Linked DNA regions of Homo sapiens: regions 1, 2 and 3 are each linked to region 4. The links come from fine-mapping of genetic effects on gene expression. A gene starts in region 4. Each other region holds a variant in brackets. All regions are shown on one strand. Distances are between the middles of the regions.

What was found.
Region 1: its variant is fine-mapped to the expression of ZBTB38 in whole blood (TOPMed, PIP above 0.99).
Region 2: its variant is fine-mapped to the expression of ZBTB38 in whole blood (INTERVAL, PIP above 0.99).
Region 3: its variant is fine-mapped to the expression of ZBTB38 in whole blood (TOPMed, PIP 0.99).

What each region holds. Positions count from the first base shown.
Region 1 is chr3:141,455,950-141,461,100 of GRCh38, forward strand. No RefSeq gene overlaps it. Among named protein-coding and RNA genes, the nearest start is that of RASA2, 29 kb to the right of the region's middle. RefSeq lists an enhancer at 1-272. The variant A/G (reference allele first, on the strand shown) is at 2,054.
Region 2 is chr3:141,406,364-141,411,514 of GRCh38, forward strand. The region is part of intron 5 of ZBTB38 (zinc finger and BTB domain containing 38); the gene reads left to right. Among named protein-coding and RNA genes, the nearest start is that of ZBTB38, 40 kb to the left of the region's middle. RefSeq lists an enhancer at 3,444-3,533. The variant A/G (reference allele first, on the strand shown) is at 2,800.
Region 3 is chr3:141,436,926-141,442,076 of GRCh38, forward strand. All of the region lies in intron 5 of ZBTB38 (zinc finger and BTB domain containing 38), which reads left to right. Among named protein-coding and RNA genes, the nearest start is that of RASA2, 48 kb to the right of the region's middle. The variant G/T (reference allele first, on the strand shown) is at 2,445.
Region 4 is chr3:141,365,542-141,370,692 of GRCh38, forward strand. ZBTB38 (zinc finger and BTB domain containing 38) reads left to right here and starts at 2,963. Exons shown (of 6, transcript NM_001376113.1): 1 at 2,963-3,263; 2 at 4,331-4,405. RefSeq lists enhancers at 1,762-2,537, 2,365-3,564, 2,630-2,859, 3,314-4,089.

The DNA of each region.
Region 1 (5,151 bases), 90 kb after region 4:
AAATGCCAGAAACTAGGAATTCCACATTCCAACACGGTCTTCCAGATTGCTGTGAAAGTATATTTGTCAAGGGAGGAGAACAGAATATATTTAATTAAGAACTTGCTAGCCTGGTTTATACCTTTTAAATATTTAGACACATGATATATACGCCTCCATCTGTACACTTGCTCCCCGCCTTGCGAGTGTTGAGGGGGCGGCTGTCATCACTCTCCAAAATGCCTGGCTTCTCATCACGCTGTCTGTGTATACAAGCTCCTGACCATGCTGAAACGTTCATGCCCATCCCTACCCCAGCCCCATCCACAGACGTGATCATTTCTCAATACCTAATTCAAAGGCCCCATCAAAAGCCTCTTCCTTGCAGTGTTGTGTGAGACAGCCCCTCACGCCTCTGCTTGCCTTGACCTCCAGCCCCACCACAGCTCTCTGGATTCAGCCGTTTTCAATTCTGCCTCTGCCGTCAGCCAGCGAGCTCCTCCCGGATGTTCCCAGCATCAGCATGCTGCGGTCAAATGCAAGTCATCTATGAAGTGTGCCGATTCGCCACTCCAGATGACCAACTGCCTTGGTGTGCCTCGCACTGAAGACTCTCCCAAGTTGCAAAACATTCAGTGCTAAAACTGAGACAGTCCCAGGCAAATGAGGACGATGGGTCACCCTAACGGGGAAGAGCCTCTTCAGAAAGGAAAGGAGCATCAGCAGGCATGGTAGAAGTAGAACTCACTGGCCAATTTCAGTTTCAAACAACTAATAGGACGTTCTTTCCTGAGCAGTGAGGAAACACCTAGGCCACACAGAAATCTGGCCAGGCTGCACAAGTCTGGCATGAGAAAATGGAGGGAAGAACCTTGGGACCCAATCTCCAGAGCCCTACTAAAATCCTTCAGTGATTTCACAGTCACTCCTACTTCTCTCATTTCTCTGAAAAACCTCCTGGGAAACCAAGCTCACCATACTGCTTCCAGCTGCCCACACAAGGCATTTGCCTCTCAGAATTTTTGATAGCGTCCACCCTAAAAATCAGTGAGTACAAGTCTTCCACTACATCCTGCCCAGTGTGGAGGAAAGCTACAGGTTTTCCTGCTGAGTCCTTTTCTATGTTTATGGGTGAAAGCACCTGAATTTCCTTTAGGAAAACCCCCTAACCCTCTTATTCATCAGCCACACCTTCAGACCATATCTGAAATCAGGATCAGGTGACTGGTGGCCACCTGATGGGATTGGGAAGGAAGCATATAAGCCGGTTTCTAGCACGTGTTTTTTTAAATCTCAACACAAGAATGAGGAAACTGAGTCAAGACCTTCTCCATTGCCAGAGATAGAAACCCAGTTGTTCATGATATGGGGAGGATATAGCTGGCTTTAAGCAAAACTGAATTCAAGGGCTCTAGCAAAATGATATCTCTCTCAACCCCTCACTCTCTGTCCCTTTTCTCTCTTACTTTCCTCTGCATTAGCTTCAGTCTCAGACTGGTTCTCCCCAGTTGATAGACAAAGATATCCATGCTGAGTGAAATCAAGTTCTCCAAAACAAGTGAAAACACACTCTTCAAAAAAAAAAATAAAAAGTCTTCAAAGGGAGCAGAGATATTTCTAATGATAACCTCTCAAGAGCAGAGTCTGAATCCACATCCAGGACATCTAACATCAGAGTTGACACTCAGAATCTCTACTAATATAGGGTACGCACCTCCTTTCAGGACACATTAAAGAAAAATTTATCAAAATGACCACAAAACACTCTGCATCGAGCTAAGACTAACTGAGCCAGGCACATACTTTCATCTTTATTCAGAAGAACCTGGAAAGAAGGTCTTGTTTTCACCATTTAATCAATGCAGCAAGTGAAGGCCCAAGTCCAAGGACTCTGCTGCTCTGAGTGATGACAATCCACACAGGAATGACAGCCCCAGTTTACTGACTGGCAGTTCCTCAACCTCAGATATCAACTTACTGGTGCTCAGACTACACTCTCCACATTTCCCTTCTGCCCTCACTTTGTGTGGTTCCAGGAACACCAGCCTTCACTTCTTCCTGCTTTTACCTGGCC[A/G]CTCAATGGTTTTTATGCATGAAAGCAAACATGTTAGAATAGGTGACCCAACCAGTGTGGACATGTATGAAGATCTGCCTACCTCAAGTTCCAGGAACTCGTATGATTAAGAGAAATGACTACTCTGTAATTGTAGTATAAAGAGAGATAATACATTTTTGTGTACTTGTGTATTATGTATGTATTTTAAAAGCTAATACATGTACACAGAAAAAATAATTTTCAAATACTGCAAAAGGGTACACAGAGAAAAATGGTCTCCCTCCCTCTCTGCCCCCAGGTTTCTCCCTAAAAGTATACACTGTTACCAGATCTTGGGTGTCCTTCCATAGATATCCCATGCATATCTAAGCATATATATATTTTATATATATATAATATATATATGTGTGTGTGCATTTAAACTTACAAATTTTTTCCTTTCTTTTTCTTGTTGTATATAAATGAGAGCACACTACACATGCCACTCACTACCTTATTTCATTTGTTTAACAATAGATAATGGAAAACTTTCTATGCTGGGACATATGGATCTCTTTTATTCTTTTAGTGACTGCATAGTATTCCATTGTATGAATTTGTTTAGGCTCCCTCAAATCATGGGACATTGTATGAATGTTTAACCCATTGTCTAATAATTGGCTAGCATTTGTTTCTAATCTTTTGCTTTTGTGTTTACATTTTAGACATATTTTTATAATACAGATATAAACAAAGAGAAAAAAAGTTTTCTGCTTAACTCTTATTTAACCAGAAAATATGATGAACAGAGGCCATACAATATTCTGAGGGTTCTTGGTAGTTGGAATGAAGGTAATTCCAATTCTGAGCTCTCAAGTAAAACTTTTTGGAATTCTTCTGCTGTGTATTAAATGCAAACTAAACAGAAGTTCGTGTCTTAGGGATCTTTAGTTGCTTAAGCAAAATGTGATGTTGGAAGGAAAAAAGAAACTAAGGGAGGACAGGGAAAAGCTGGAAACAGGAAGCAGAAAACTTCCCTCTCTCCACCTCTTGTCATCTCTGTGTCCCCCGTGTCACCTTTCTTCATTTCTGTCTGTGCTAATCATCAGCCTTCTCTGCCTCTCCCTGCCTGTGGATGGAAGATACTAGCCAGCCCTATAGGACCTCACAGGCAAAGGAATCCACGGCCCTCCTTCCCCACCCCCACTAAAGAGACTGGTTCTCCCATGATCTGATGAGCTCTGGTGAAAGGGACAGAGCCCTATAGTAGAAGATAGCTGCAGGGGCCCCACCCCAAGGACAAACACGGTGATCAGAGAAGGTTGGGTGGGCTGGGAATGGCCATCAAGTGCCACCACGTGGTTCCACGGGGACGAGAGCTTTGTGGACAAGGGCTGCTTAGTCAGTAACTCTGCATGAGGGACCCTCAAAGCCATCACGATGGCTTCAACTTGGCTGTCTAGCTTTCTAGCCTGGAGTATTCCATTATAGATATGTCAGGATAGGTAAGAAAAAGTTCTGCCAAGGCCTTGTCCAACAACAGCATTTCACACTTATTTGTGGGTAAGATGTGGTGTGCTGAATTGAGGAGTAGGATTCATGTATTTGTAAAGGATGCTTCAGCTCCTGTCCTCTACACACACACAAAAGTTTTGAGAGTGTTTTCACATCACCTTGTCAGATTGTAAATATGTTATTCTCAAGAAATGTCATGGATTTGTTTGGGTGACACTTGTTGTTGTTTTTGTTTTCAGACAAGGTCTTACTCTGTCGCCCAGGCTGGAGTGCAGTGGCGCGATCTCAGCTCACTGCAGCCTTGAACGCCCAGGCTCAAGCTATCCTCCCACCCCAGCCTCCTGAGTAGGTGCGATTACAGGTGCGTGCCACCAAACCCAGCTAATTTTTTTAATGTTTTGTAGAGATGGTGTCTCACCATGTTACCCAGGCTGGTCTTGAACTCCTGGGCTCAAGCAGTCCACCTGCCTTGGCCTCCTAAAGTGTTAGGATTACAGGTGTGAGCCACTGCGCCCAGCAACCCTTGTTTTGTTCTTTTTGAGAACATATTTTTAAAGAAATATGTTTAGATCTGAAAATGAGTAACGTAAAGAAGCCATATGTGTTTGAGAGAAAGTTCACTGAAGCAAGGGTAAGAATCTGTCTCAACTCCTGACTGTGTAACCCCAGCCTTTAGTGACAGTTTTAGCAGGAAAGCCCAGTCGGCCCTCTCCGTGAGCATCAGTCTTGGGGCATCTCTCTGAAGAACACTACTGAACCACACAGACTCCGAGGGAACTCCTACTCTCTGTGCACACTGGAGAGGAAAATCCTGCCAGCAGAGGTCACTGCCGTACCAGCTGGGAGTCAGCAGCGGGACAGCATCATCCCAATAAGGCTGTGCCCGCCTCTCCCCTGCCCTCTTCTTAACCTGATGGCTGCTTAGCTCATTGAAGGAGATAAATGGCAGTGTTGCACTAACCAAGTGTGCGTGGGCCATCAGCAGTTTTTTTTTTCTCAGTAGTAGGCTTTGATATCCCAAACCTAAGGGTGTTTAACATTAATACTCAGAATAAGACACACAGAGAACAGCGGGTTCTGCTTTCACCTTGGATTGTATTTTTCCGTGTTTAGCCCAATCATAAACTTAATCCACCTGCTTCTTGCCTGGATGACTGAGAGGAGACTCCCACCCCAGGACACAAGCCCGTGTGCATACACATGCACATACACACACCCCACACACACAACGTGGCCTGAGGTAACATACATAGATCCTCGTAGAGGAGGAAATGATACCATGATATGGAACCTCAAACATTTATCATTTCTTGATGTTGGGAACATTTCAAATCTTCTAGCTATTTTAAAATATACAATGAATTATTGTTAACGATAGTCACCCTACTGTGCTATTGAACACTAGAACTTACTCCTTCTAACTGTATCTTTGTACCCATTATTCAACCTCTCTGATCACCCCTGCTTCCCAGCTGCTGGTAATCATCATTCTACTCTCTACTCCCATGATATCCACCTTTCAAGCTCCCAAAAACAAGAGGCATCTATGAGCTACCTGTGGGCCAACAGCTAGCCACAGACAGTACCTATGTATAATGGACTGACTTGCCAGCCCTCTCAAA
Region 2 (5,151 bases), 41 kb after region 4:
TAACAATGAAATGGGAAAGGAATAGATGCAAAGGGAAGAACTGACAGAATCTGATGTCTCAGTGAAGGAACAGCTAAAGCTGACACTGCGATTTCCAGAGCAGTGGTACCCATGGAGGAAACTCAGAAGGAGGTAAGGAGCTACATTTTAGAGGTGCTGTGTTTGCAGTGTTGAAGCATGCTGTCTCCCAGGCAGAAGGGGGCTTTGCGCTCCACAAGAAGGCCAGGGCTCATTTGGGAGTCTTTGGTTTATAAGAAAAAGTCAAGAGATGGGAAAAGAGATTTTTGAGAGAGAATATAGGGGAAAAATGGTTGAGGATGGAGCCTTTTGAGAAAAGAAAGGAAGATCTAGGGAAGCAGATAGAAGTCTGGCAAGATAGTAAGGAAGAACCATGGAGGAATGCAACTCCAGAAGCCAGCGGAAGGGGGTTCCTAATGGAGGGAGCCAGGCATGTCAGACCGTGGAAGGTGAGGGATGAGCTTAGGAAGACTGGTGGATTCACAAGTGCAAAGTTACATTGTTGGTGTTTTCCTTTTTAAGGTAATATGACGTGTATGATGAATATTAAGTGGTTTAATTTACACAAATTAAACCACTCAAATTTACACAAATCAAGAATCACTCTTAAATTTGTCCCCGGCAAGTCCCAAAACACATTTCTGATTATGAAAATTCAGGCTGTTAAATGTGGTTTTGATAGTAGTCATACACTGTATTCTGTTGTCAGCATACAAATTAAAGAATATCCCTTAATAGAATTGAGTCCTTTAAAAAATACATTTCTGTTGACTCAAAAAGTTTCTAACAGTAATGTAATTCCATTGCCTTTTACCATATGGCTATTGTATGACATGTGCGTGTCTGCGCATTTTCACGTGCATATGAGCTTAGTACAATGGAATGAGGAGACCGGGGTCAGATAAATCTAGTTTCACAACCTAGCTGGGCCACTTTCCAGACTTGTGACTTTAGAAGAGTTTCTCTCTAAGCCTGACTTTTTCCATGCATAACTCATATAGGATTATTTGGAAGACTAATTAATACATAATTTGGTCAGGATTTCTATATACCATAGTAGGTAATTAATTAATATTGGTTCCCTTCCCCTCACAACCTTGTATAGATATGTAAATTTATATATTGTGCATCTACACGTAAAGCCTTATCTTTAAGACTCATTTTAATTTTTAATTTTATCACAGAAAGCACACATCTCCTATTACCACTGATTTATTCTGGGTTAGTCCCAGTGATCATCAATTTAGTATGGACAAGAATCCACCTGGGGAACTTGTCAAAATGTAGATTCCCAGGTGGGGCAAGGGAATCTGCATTTTAAACAGCACTGTCATGGCTGGTGACGAAGATTAACAATTGCCAATTTCTGCGAAGCAGAGGAAGAGATAAACCTGAGATTTGAGATGCTAGTTTCAACTCCTGTTTCTACTAGAGATATGTCTATACTCAAAATTTTTATATCATTAATGTTAATGGATTATATGCATAATCAGACAAAAACAAATACGTTCCAGAGAGTCAGGGAATGGTGGTATTATTGCACCCTCCCACCCCGCATCATCTCATTGCTCTCTGCTGTGTGATCACAGTACTGGGTAACAAGCTGCCTGCAAACCAGTTTCTTTTTCTGGGGAATAAGTGATGACACCCTGTCCCCATGGCCAGAGTTTGCAAAACCATTGTAACTTGTTTGTTAGCAATATGTGACAACACTACAGTCATGCCATTAAAGTATTCTACATGACTCTGTCTTCTGGTGGATAAACATCTCTGTCATTGTATTATTTCCCTCAATCTCTGCATCTTAAAGTCACTTAATTTTTAGGCTAAAGTTCATATTCTTCATCTATCCCAACTCCATTTTATAGATGAAAAAATCATTTGGCTGGGCACAGTGGCTCATGCCTGTAATCCCAGCACTGTGGGAGGCCAAGGCTGATGGATGACCTGAGGTCAGGAGTTCGGGACCAGCCTGGCCAACGTGGCAAAACCCCATCTCTACTGAAAATACAAAAATTAGCCAGGCATGGTGGCGCACACCTGTAGCCCCAGCTACTTGTGAGGCTGAGGCAGGAGAATCACTTGAACCTGGGAGGTAGAAGTTGCAGTGAGCTGAGATCGCACCACTGCACTCCAGCCTGGGTGATAGAGCAACACTCCATCTCAAAAAAGAAAAAAAAAAAGAATGTATCATTTTTTTCTTCCTAATTCTAGCTTCCCTCTTTGTTTATTCACAACAAAGGATTGAGATATATAGACATGTTTGGTGTTTAACTTAGATATGGAAAGTATAAAACATTTGACATGTATATGGAATTGCTCTTTATGTTCTCTATACATAGTTTAGAAATCAGATGACTTATTGGGAATATATTTATGAAAACTATATTGAGTCATTTTAAAACGATGTCAGCATCCTCTTGCTGGTTTGCCTCTTTGGAGGAGGATGCTGATGGCCTGGAGCCTTTCCTAGAAACAGAGTTTCTCTCTCTATACCCACAGCTCCCAAGGAAAGAGGATGGAACTGACATTCATGGAGTTAGGTCTGTACCTTATATGCATTATCTCAGCCATCTTTTAGAACCTCAGACAACATGGTGTGGCAAGTGAAGCAAAAAGAAACTCAACTACAGCCAAGATTGTAGAGATGGGAGTTTATTTTTTTTTAATTATTATTTTTTAAGACGGAGTTTTGCTCTTGTTGCCCAGGCTGGAGTGCAGTGGCGCTATCTCAGCTCACTGCAACCTTTGCCTCCCGGGTTCAAGTGATTTTCCTGTCTC[A/G]GCCTCCCAAGTAGCTGGCATTACAGGCAACTGCCACCACGCCCAGCTAATTTTTGTATTTTTAGTAGAGATGGGGTTTCACCACGTTGGCCAGGCTGGTCTCAAACTCCTGACCTCAGGTGATCCACCGGCCTCAGCCTCCCAAAGTGCTGAGATTACAGACGTGAGCCACCGTGCCCATCCTGAGGTGAGATTTTTACACCCTGGGGTCTGTCTGACTCACAAGGCCAGCCTCTTCTCTCCACACTCTGGGCTGCCTCCCCAGCCACATAGTGAGAGTATGAAACAGGTATTTGTTCCTGATTTTAACTGAGAGGCTCAGAGATCCTCATCCTTAATATTATTGTAACCTCAGAATTTTTGACAAGAAGCAAATGGAGCAGAGATAATGTGCAAACTTGAATTTGTTCAGCAAATATTTACTTAGTATCAACTACGTGCCAGGTAGGAGATCAGGACCCCACCCTCATGGAGCCTCCCTATATCCCTAACCTATCCTTATCTACTGTCTGTGCTGCTGCTGCAAGCCTTTCTTTTAGAGTAAAACACCAATGGAGTTCCACACTGATCAGATCAATCAATTTGTGTCTTGCTATAGCTGTCACTGTCACTGTGCTGGGCTAAATGTTCCCAGAGCCTATACCAGTTGAAAGTTTAAAACTGCTCCTTGGGGGATTGCCCAGAGGGCTAAGTAAATGTTTGTTGATTACCCTCTGAGGCCCTGAGGAACTCTACAGGGGGCTAGGAAAATTGCCCAGAGCCCCTGCAGGGCTGGGTTGGGGTGAGAAGAAAGACATTCGTGAGAATCCAGAGGGGAGGCCTAGGAATTGTTCCCAGCATGACTTTGCTTGTTTGGTTTCCTCACCTATAACCAAAGAAGGTTTTGCTCAATGGTGGCTGTTTCCTTCCGGCTCTAAGGTGTAGTACTTTATTTTCTTTTGAGCAGAAAAGCAGAGGTGCTGGGACAAGCAGGGGCAGGGACTCAGTCTGAGGTCTCCCAGGGGTCTCAATGTAGTAGCTCCCTCCTGTCCTCATAGATATGCCGATATTAGCCAGACTTTGGGTTCTGCCTTTAACCCTCTACACTTGAGGAAAGTGCATGAATTTAAGGGTGGGAGATTGTCCACTTTTGAGGGAATGAAGACTCTTACAGAAGGATTGGGACAGGCTGGTAATCATGGTTTTCAAATTTAATGCTTACAAGGAACCTGGGAAATAAACTAGCCCGACCTCTTTGCATTCCAGATAAGAAGAGTCCAGAGAAGTCTTAGGACTTGCTCAAGGCCACATCATTAGTGGCAAAGTGGGAACAGAACCCACTGTCCTAGGCCCAGTCTGCCAGAAAAAGGCAGGTTATCAGAAGAGCAGGAGATGGCAGTCAGCAGCAAAGCTTAAAGAAGGACTGGCATTGTCCCATGAGAGCAAGCTGACCATGACATCTGCTGGGCTTCCAGCAGACACACGCAGTAGGACACCGTGATGCAAAGCTTCCGGTCCAGTTGGAGCCCTTGGGTTTTTGCCAATTAAGATAGTCAAGCAAATTTATTTTTGACCTGGGAGAGACAGAAGGCTGTTTTCCATCTTACAAAAGCATTTCTCCTCTCTTATGTAAATGAAAATTCCTAAGCTGTATTATAACTTAATATTGAAAGAAATTAAAACATTTACGCAGGGAGAGAGGAAGACCCAGCTTGCGCACCCCTATTTTTCTGGCCACTACTGTGAGTGTTCATACCAGGATGCATTTTCATGAAAAATCCAGTGGCTGTTTAAGTCCTGGAAGGGTATCTTGGGATTATTTCAGCAACCCGTGAAGGCAGGCTTTGTGCAAGGTGAGACAGATATGAGCTGTCACTTCCTGCTTTGTGAGTTGGATATTGTTTCTAGGCCCTGTTTTATTTATGTTATTTTTCCTGTTCATGTGTTAGAACAACTGACTGTTTGTAGAGTTGATGACAATTAGATAATAAGACCACCAATTCAGTCCAAACAAAGATGAATTCATTATCTTGCCAGGCAAGGGAGACCCACATATTCAGATCAGTCTCCCCATACTTTTGTGCGTTTTCATGTAAGCATGGAGATTTCCGATTAGTTTTAATAGCACAGTGATTGGCTCCTAGACACCTAAATGAGGATTTCCTTTTTGAAAAACCTACTCAGCATTCTGATCTGTCCCTGCTTAAACCTATTTAGTCTGGTCTTATAGTCCCTGACTTGAGCCCAAAGAGCAAGGTTTCTCAAGGTCTCTGTGCAGGTCTTTGATGCTCTTTCGTGGAAGAGATTTACAGTGGTTACAGCCATAACCGGTGCCTGTGGCTGAACCATGCCTTCTGTAGTGTGTTCAGCCCT
Region 3 (5,151 bases), 71 kb after region 4:
GCCTCCTTTGGTCTGCAGATTTAGAACTCATTTCCTTGTTGCACTTTGGACCTGTGAAATAGCTTTTAGCCGTAGCACTTTCTGAGATCATCCAATGAGCTGGATAACTGTGCTCTAAAGACAGTTTTGACGATACTTGGTGGTTTTGGGAGCGGGCACTGTTAAGATTGGAGAGGTGGATACTAGAGTCTTAACTTTAAATTGCTTCTCCAACAAGTTTCACTGCTTTTTTTCAAGTTCCATTCGCAGATTTGGACTCTTTGTTTTAAGCAGTTGCATTGACTCCTGGATTATAAACTTCTTGAGGGCATGAAACTCTGACTCTGTCTCTTTCTGCCTGAAGTTCCCTTTTCTCCTCTTGTCCATATCTGCAGCACTCAATTCCAGCAGCAGGATCCAGTACATACCACGTCCTTCTGCCTCCCTTACTCTCTGTTGAACTCCCATACCTTTTCCCTGCATGCCTGATCCTGGATGTTCCCTGGGTATCTTTGTTTTGCAGTGTTTCATGAGCACATCTTAGTTCCCCTGCCACCCTGCAAACCTTTGAGTGTAGAATTTTTGTTTCTCTTATGGCACTGAGTTTTAGTGTCAGCCCTTAGAACGGTTCTGGCTGGTTGATTAAAAACTACCTGAAATAAGGTGCTCCTCTGGAACAAGGTGGGAAGGAGACTTTCCAATGTTTACTTTGTGTGCTTTTTCAATTTGATAATTATATGTATGTATTACTTATTCACAAGAGAAATTAAGGTATAAAAATACATATGGATTCCAGGGTCTCACTCCAGCTGTTCTAAACCAGAATCTCTATAGGAGCAGGGGAGGTGGAATCTGTAAAGCTGTACTATCTGAATACCTCCCAGGTGATTTTGATGCCTGACCAGGTTTAGGAACCAATGTCTCAAAGCACATAATAGGTATTCAGTAAGCATTCGTTCAAAGGAGGGATGAACGCTTGCCTTTCTTTTTTCTTTTTCTTTTTCTTTTATTTATTTATTTTTTTTGAGATGGAGTCTCGCTCTGTTGCCCAGGCTGGAGTGCAGTGGCGCAATCTTGGCTCACTGCAATCTCTGCCTCCTGGGTTCAAGCAATTCTTCTGCCTCAGCCTCCCGAGTAGCTGGGACTACAGGCGCACGCCACTATGCCCAGCTGATTGAACGCATGTCTTTCTATAGCACTTAGCTGATGCCTTCTGCCTAGCAATTGTTCAATAAATATTTGTTAAGAGAATTAAATTTTGAATTCAGATGCCATCACCACCTCCAACACCCCATCCCACTTTCTTTCTTTTTTTTTTTTCTTTTTTCTTCTTTTGAGACGGAGTTTCGCTCTTGTTGCCCAGGCTGGAGTACAATGGCGCAATCTTGGCTCACCACAACCTCCGCCTCCCGGGTTCAAGCAGTTCTTCTCTCTCAGCCTCCCGAGTAGCTGGGATTACAGGTATGTGCCACCATGCCCGGCTAATTTTGTATTTTGAGAAGAGACGGGGTTTCACCATGTTGGTGAGGCTGGTCATGAACTCCCAACCTCAGGTGATCCACCTGCCTCGGCCTCCCAAAGTGCTGGGATTACAGGCATGAGCCACCACGCCTGGCCCACCCCATCCCACTTTATTAGCTGGGAAGTGGAGTCATCTGTTCTTCCCCAGGCTCTCACTCTGTCTGGGGTGGATAGCTACTTTTTACCTGGACCACTGTGATGGCCTATTGGTCTCCTGCCTGCAGCCTGCCTCCCTCTGAGCCTTTCAGCATACTGCAGGCTGCGTGATTTTTTTTTAAAAAAGCTCAAATTTCATTATAACTCTCAATGGTTCCCTATTCCCTGCAATATAAAATTTAACTGTAGGGAGTCCTTTAGGGCCCTTTATGATCTGGTCTGACCCTTCTTTCCCAAGCTCTCTCATTCAACAGATACATGCTGAGGCCTGCCATGTGCCTGGCCCCACATAGACGCTGTCGACTGGGCTGCACACACTACTCCTGCTACCACTCAGACTCCCTCATTAGCCCCTGAGAACAGTACCCACTTTGATCATTTTTAATTTTTTTTTTTTTTTTGCCTATAGTGTTCCTTCTGCTTACAGCATCCTTCCTATACCCCTGTTTTACTTATTTATGGAAGTAATCCAGGGCCTCTGTAAATAATTGTACTTACTCTTCTAACATTTTATACTTATCTCCAGTATATGGCCTGCCATCATGGATTCCAATGATTAGTTGACAGTTCTCTTTCTTCCCCTAGACTCTGGGCTCCTTGAGAGCAGAGACTTGCCTTCCTCCTGTTCATATCTCCAGTATAACTCTAGCACCCAAGTACTGTGTCTGACCATATTAACATATTTGCTGGATAAAGTTGTTAAAAGGTGTGTCAAGAAGGCAAATCAAGGTGCTACTTATTAACTATGATTTTTAAAGGCTTTCTGACACACAAAGGTAGATATCCCC[G/T]CTGAAAAATGTCATGCTTGGATTTTGCAAAGTTATGACAATATTTTAATGACATATATAATGATATTTATTGTATATGTTGTTCTGTTAAGTATGACTACAATATTATTCCATGTTAAGAGTTGGCCTTTTGCTAACCATCCTAGTTGAACAATCTGAGAGAAGAATCAGAACCCCACAGAAGTGGTTGGGGCTTTGTATATTATAAATCTGAGTCAGGACACCCTAGAGTGTTCATTAGCCTGATTTGAAATGCCGTATTCCGCAAATGGAAGCAGAGCCTAAAGGGAGGTTCAGGATGCTGTGAAGCAGAATGTTTTGGAAGAAGCAGTAGTTTTGAACTGGAAAGACAAAATAGATGATGTCAGCATAGACCTAAGCCACCTTTTTGAATCATATAGCATGTGTTTTGTCAGATCTGAAGCTATCTAGTCAGGCTGATAAAGAATTAAAATAACATGTGGGCTTCCAAGAAGCCAAACATGATAAAAATATATGAGTCAGGGGAGAAAGGAGATCCTACAGGGGCCCAGAGCCGAGAGACTTGAAAGAAGGCAAAAGAAACATCAGCAAAGTATGCTATTGATCTGTGACCCAGTGAAGGACAGACTCCTTCACTCCGGGGTCACCCTTTCTCCCTTCAGGGGCAAAGAGGAAGTCATAAGATTCCATTTCATTTCATTCTAGTTTTATTTGTAGAAATAATCCCCCATACTTCTAGAAAAGATTCATGGAAGATTACAGTTAAAGGCAGGGTAAACAAGAGCAGAAGAACTAATGTTAAATAAAGAAAATGAAACAATAGGCACACCAGAAACCCAGGCCAAGAATAGCTACAACAATTGATGATAAAAGTTAGTTCTGAGCTTCTTTGTCTTGAGAATTAAAACAGAAACATGGTGAATATAGTGTTCTCATTATCTGAATTGAAGAATTTGTTAGTAGAAAGGTACTTTTTTCCTATGACTGGATACAATAAAAGAATTTATCAAATGGATCCTTGTATAAAGGACACTAAATAACATAATAGTCACAGCTTATAATAGCAGCTTTACAAAAAGGTAGAGAGGTTCTTTGTGTGGCCATCTGGTCCATCCAACTAAATAAATGCCATGAGCTAAATGTTATACTTTACTGCTAGGAAAACATTGCCACTGAGAGTTAAAGAAGTATCATCAAACTGTAAGGCTTTCTGGAGACGTCTCTTAATACAGAATAGCACAGAGAGACTGGATGAATCTCTGGTTAGTATGTTCTGTAGACCAGAGGGTTTTTTTGTGTGTGTGTTTTGTTTGTTTGTTTTGCTTTACTTTTAACTGCATGTGGTGATCTATTACTGGGTAGTGAAATTAGTGAGTTGCTGTAAGCATTCTTTAAAAGAAAAGGCTGGGTGCAGTGGCTCACACCTGTAATCCCAGCACTTTGGGAGGCTGAGGCGGGCAGATCACGAGGTCAAGAGATCGAGACCATCCTGGCCAACATGGTGAAACCCCGTCTCTACTAAAAATACAAAAATTAGCTGGGCGTGGTGGCATGCACCTGTAGTCCCAGCTACTCGGGAGGCTGAGGCAGGAGAGTCGCTTGAACCCTGGAGCCGGAAGTTGCAGTGAGCTGAGATCATGCCATTGCACTCCAGCCTGGTGACAGAGCGAGACTCAATCTCAAAAAAAAAAAAAAAAAAGAAAAGAAAAAGAAAGAAAAGAAAAATACTAGAGCAGAACAGAATGCATCACACCTAGTAAGGGTGAGTGTTAATTTCATTTGTGTCTTAGGTCACTATGTACTGTGTATCTCTTACTGTGGGAAGTATGAAAGCTGCTACTTTTCACTGCCCCTCACTATAATATCAGTTAGTAAGCTTTAGCACACCAGACTCATGGAATAGGACTTATATAGAGAATATAGAAAATACAGAGAAGAATGGAGATGGGATCCTCAGACCAGAACAAGAGCCACTGTGCCTTGAAGTTGTGCTAATTCAGGAATCTATGACTAGATTCATTCTTGTCCGTTCTTGTCAAAGGACTTAGAAATGTCCTTTCCTGGTTTTACATTTTGTCTCCTTTTTAGTTGCCTTCAGTACCTGACAGTTCTTTTTGAAAACCCTAGTCTACTTTGTCTCTACTAAAGGGGAAACTAGAAAAGGAACCTGATGAGTCACCATAGGGCCAATAGCGCAGAGAGGCGGGGGTGCCCCTGGTGGTCAGACTTGGTTACACACCCTGCAACTCTAGAGATTGACCCTTATGAGCCACAAATTAGGAAGGGCTCCTTCAGTTCTTGCTTCTTCTCTGAGTGGGCAATAGCTTTGCATATAGGTACCACTTAAGGAAAATTCATTTAAAAAAATAGCCTGGGCAACATAGCGAAACCCTGTCTCTACCAACAATACAAAAATTAGCCGGGCGTGGTGGCTCTCACCTGTGGTCCCAGCTATTCAGGAAGCTGAGGTGAGAGAATCGCTTGAGCCGGGGAAGTGGAGGTTGCAGTGAGCGGAGACCACACCACTGCACTCCAGCCTGGGCAACAGAGCGAGACTTTGTCTCAAAAAAAAAAAAATCATTTTCCTGCTTCATGGTTGTGACTGGATCATCAGATTTCTCTTTGAAAATAGGCAGGAAGCTTCTGGCAGGACCATGGCATTGCCCAGCTCTAGTAGTTCAAAGCAGCAGCCTTGAATGATGATGAGACCCTTAACATTTCAGAA
Region 4 (5,151 bases):
ATTAACCACCTCTGAAAGACCCCACCTCTCAGTACTGCCATATTGGAGATTAAATTTCAACATGAGTTTTGGAGAGGACAAATATTTGAACCATATATTGTATGATTCCATTTGTAGAAAATGTCCAGAAGAGGAAAATCTATAGAGACAGAAACTAGATGAGTGGTCATCTAGGGCTGGTAGGTGGGGACAAATGAAGAATGATACCTAATAAGCATGGTGTTTTTTGGGGTGGTGACAAAAAGTGTTAAAAAAAAATAGATTACAAATTACATAATTCTGTAAATACACTAAAACCCATTGAATTGTACACTTTAAGTGAGTGAACTTTCTGATATGTAAATTATACCTTAATAATTTTTTTTAAAGAGAGGGAATAAAATGAGAGAAATCTAAGTCAACAAGTATAGACAAGTCTTCCAAGGAATTCCTTGCATTCATAAAGGTTTGGTTTTAATTACCAGCATTTAACTGCATTTGTTGTAGCAAAGGAGGAGGATGCTCCACTTCACGTAGAGACCAGGGAAGTGCCATTGTACTTACTTCTCTGTATCTCCAAGTGGATATTTTTCCCAGTTCTCTGATTTTATTTTCACTGTTAGTATCAACCCCAGAGCATATAACCCAAGAATCTGTGTCTCACTTAAGCTTACTGATCATTTCTGCTTCTTTTCTTTATTTTTCTGTTCACATTATCCTGATAGGATGCAGGGTGAAGAAATAATCAGCCTCTGTTCATCTTATTAGAGAAATAAATACCTGTGTATATGAAGCAAGCAAGGCCACTGAGTCTTTGGGGAAACAGAGCAGGGAGGTGCCCAGAGGCATTTTCTGCAGAGAAGGAAGAAAAGAATAAACAAGTCTTCTGCCAAAAATGCCTGGAACTTAAAGCGATTTCCTCAGCCCAAGATCAGGCTGTGTGCAGACACTGACAGTGAACCTGATCAGTTGCTGCTGCTCCCTTGATTAAAAGCATGTAGCTTTCTCTCTTGTGAAATTCACCTCTATAAATTCCACCTGCCTAGGGATTCAAACTACATGGAACAAGTGCAATTCCTCAGAGTGGCAACTGGCAGAGCTCCCAGGAACAAGGTAGAACTACACAATGTCCCAGGCATCAGAGGCATAGATTGCCTGAGTCAGGGAGAGTGGTCTCTGTGACCTGACACCCCACCCACAGTGGGAAGGAAAGCTGTGGGTGTGTTATCAAGGAGGCCTCCACAAGGGGCTGGAAATTCCTGGTTTTGTCTTCCTCTTGGAATGAGACATTTACTCTAAGAGAATCATGGAAAAGTACAAACCACAGAATCATAAACCACAGAGGGAGAAGCTACCTCGTAGGTCATTCTTATGCTGGGCCCAGATACCCCGATAAGCAGATGTTCTCTTCTCACCACCCCTCCTCGCCTTTGCTTGCCCACAGCCATTGCCAGGACTCTTCCTCAGGCCCAGAAAGGCAGCTGATTCCTGGTAGGAGGGCGCTAAGAGTAGAAAGTAACTACCATTGTCAGGTCCAGATCTGTTCCCAATCCCTTCTCACTCCTCCTGCACTCTAAAACCACACCACAGTTCCAACTCTTTCTGAGTCTGGAATCTTTGAGAGTGCCGTCATGTCCTTCTTCCTGTAGCCTTCTTGTCCACCCCAGATGGACTGACCCTCCCACCTACATCCATGAGGCCAGAAGGCAACAAAGACAAGCGTGGACTCTGGCTCCCGCCGAGGTACTCTGTACCCCGTGGCTCTCGGATTTTGCATCTACCACATGCCACAGGCTTGCGTCCATCCGACCTCCCTAGTTTCTCATCCCCACTTGAACCTGATGACTGATTCGCCCTCCTGGCTACGCTGAGTAAGCCACCCACTTGCCAAACCTCAGACCTGGTGTTGACGCAGTAAGAAGGCATGAGGCCCATGTTGCCAGAACATTCCTAATTGTTTCATTGTTTCCTTGTAGGATGTGGTTTCAAGTCCCATCTTTGTCTCTTTTCTCCTGGCCAGGTTGCCCTTGGTCAATATTCCTTCATTCACTCCAGCCACTCAGCACCGTGATTAAGAAAACAGGATGTGAGATTAGATGATCCAGGCTCTGCCATGAACTAACTAGCTGTGAGGCTTTAGAGAAGTGTCTTAACCTCTCTGAGCATCCATTTCTTTCTCTATAGCATTAGGAATATTAATAGTACCTACCTCACAGCTTTTTTGTTGTGATAATACCAATAAATGAAATAATCTTCATAAAGCACAGAGGCTTGAATGTTCACTCTAAGTATTTAATATGTGTCCTCTACTATTTTATTTTACAATTATCATTCCTTAATTCATCATATAATTACCAAGCCTCATGCCAGGCACTGAGATATAAATATCCCCTTTAAAGAGTGGTCATGTCTTAAATCCAGGAAGAGCTAGTTCATGTTGGCACCCAGGGTAGGGAGCGAAGCCCAGGGCCACAGCACAGAGGCAGAGGAGAATAGACACTGACCACCAGGAGCTGCCCGGGGATGGTGACAAAAGTGCCTTCCACCTTTCCGCATCTCTTTCAATACCACTGCAACTCCTTGAGTAAGGTGGGCACCACACAGAAGAAGGGGGATGGCAGAGGGGCAGTGAGAGGTCCCCAGGGAAACACCCTCTTCTTCTTCCCTGCTTCTCTGACAGAGCACGGCCATGCCTCTGCCATGCAGGAGGGTGATGTCCTTTGGGGAGGCCTTGTTGAATCTGTCTGGGGCTGTTCCGGAAGTAGGAAGGGCGGCTGGGGGTGGGGAGACGGCAGGAATGTTCTCCTGGCCTGCTGGTCTGTGCCGGCGAGTGTGCTGAGAGGAGGGCCTCTGGACATCAAAGGTTCCTTTTGTCCCCTTCCGAGTGGCAGGGCAGCCCGGCCCGGGCTGCTGGCGATGACTCAGGCCTGGCCCTGACGTCACCCACGCCCGGCCACTGGCCTCCCTCTGAAGCCAGGAAACTAGTTGGGGAGTGGCACTCGCAGCTGCAGCAAATCTCAAAATAAAGAGGCAACGGCCTTTCTCTTCCTCTCCATCTCCCTATAGCACACCTTTTATTTCTTTTCTTCTTTTTTTTAAGCCTCACGAAAGATTTTACTTGTAGATCAACTTTCAAAATGTAGGAAGTCAGAATGGGTGACATCATCAGAAAAATATGTGGAGCTGATCACAAGAAGTGAAGAACCCAGAGCACGAAAGCGGTTGTGACTCCTGGGCCCAGGGAGTTGACAGCGTCTGGGTTTCAGAGGAGCCAGCGCCTCCGAGTAAGTGAAGGCCCACTTTTGGCCCCCCCTCACTCAGCGCCCTTCACCGTAGGGCGCCATCTTGTTCCCTGACGCCTACAGCTTGCCAAGCCCCAGCCCAGAGTTGGGAGTAGGGACTGCATTTGGGAGACCCTCTAAATACGGCCCCAAAGGGATCTGATATCTCTCTCCACAGGATCAGAAAAGAATGCAAAAAAAAAAAAAAAAAACAATACTAAGACGGAAACCCTGGGGAGAACAGCCCAACTGATGCCTTTCCCTGTCAACCCTCTTGTTTTGCCTCCTCTTCCTCCCCTCACCTGAGTATTCCGTTTCAGGCTGTCAGAATGTTTGTTCAGAGTTCTGGATTGTTTGCTTCCTAGATCTTATACTGAGCGATCAGACATAAAAATAAACCCTGTTCTAGGCAAATACGTGTCCTGTGCCATCAAATGGTATTTTCACACTTAACCTGGTAAAATATGACAGCCCTGGTAAAAAGATGTACATAATTGTGCTGCCTTTACTGAGCACGTTTCTGATTGTTCTGTGTATGAACCTCCATTATCTTATCGCCCTGTTTACAGAGGACTTATTTTCATTCCTACTTGTGCCATCGTATCTGGGATGATATTAAGCACAAAGACACAATGTGTCTGTTTTAACTTTGTCTAAAAACTCATAGTTCTTTACAAAGCCTATAATTTCACGACCTCTGGAAGTTCCTACCCAAGAAAGTTAAGTTCCCAAGAGAAAAGTTTTGACACATACATGAGAACAGCACGTAGGCATAGAAATCATACCCTGATTTTCCCGGCTTCTAAGTCATCCCCTGAGTCAGCATCTAGTCTTCGTATAGCTGACGTACCAGGGGAGATCTGTTCTTCAGAAATTCTATGTTAAAATGACTGGGAGCGGGGAGGCGTAAGTCTCATTTTAAAGGCAGTAAGGAAGCTTGTCATTTACTGGAAAACAGTGGCATATTCCTTTGTAAATGGACAACTCCCTTTGGAAATTAACTATCACACACTAAAATATCTGTTTTATAGGCCTTATGTTTTACTTTTTGTTTTACTTTAATATATTAGGTTGTCTTGAAGTGAGGCTCTGCTGTAGTCCTGTTCTTCTGGCTCTAAGATCTGAATGTTGTGACCACTAATTTGGTAAGTGTCATTTGTCCCCAACAGCTACTTAAATTTAAGTCTCCCAATTCTCCTTTTTTAGTTTGTGGTAAGATTCAAAGAAAAGGGGAAAGGGCACAGAGATTTCTGTACACAATGATTACAGCTATATTAAAAAGGATATTAGGATAGGCTAATTGTTATAATAGAACCCCAAATCTATAATGGCTCAAACACAATAGTTTATTTCTTGCTCATGTAACAGTACAGGTCAGTGGGGCAACTGTCTTTCATGCATTCATTCAGAGACACAGGTAGAGAGGGGCTTTGCCTTCTGCAGCATGTGGTTTTCAAGGTCGCCTAGGGGTGTCTCCACTCCTCAGTGCAGTAAGAAAAGAGCATGAAAAAGTGCACATGGGAGTTTTTTATGGGCTCTGCCTAGAAGTGGTGCGTGTTACTTCTACTCACATTCCATTGGCTAAAACTCCATCACATGACCACAGCTAACCACAGAGGAGTCTGGGAAATGTAGTCCTTGGTGGAGCAGCCACTTAGCAGTGACAGCTCTGGAGGGGTTTCTGAAGAAGAGGTAGTTCTCTCTGGCACAGCACATAAAAGAAACTTGGAGATACTCAAGGATAAAGTTGCATAGAAACAGTGGGAGAAGTAAACAATTATCCACATTTAGGTTTTCCTGACTGACACTCTTAGGTAACATCTGGCCATGAGGGCAAGATGCAATGGATGAGATTTCTCAACACCTCTGTCCATTATGACCCTAAGCATCA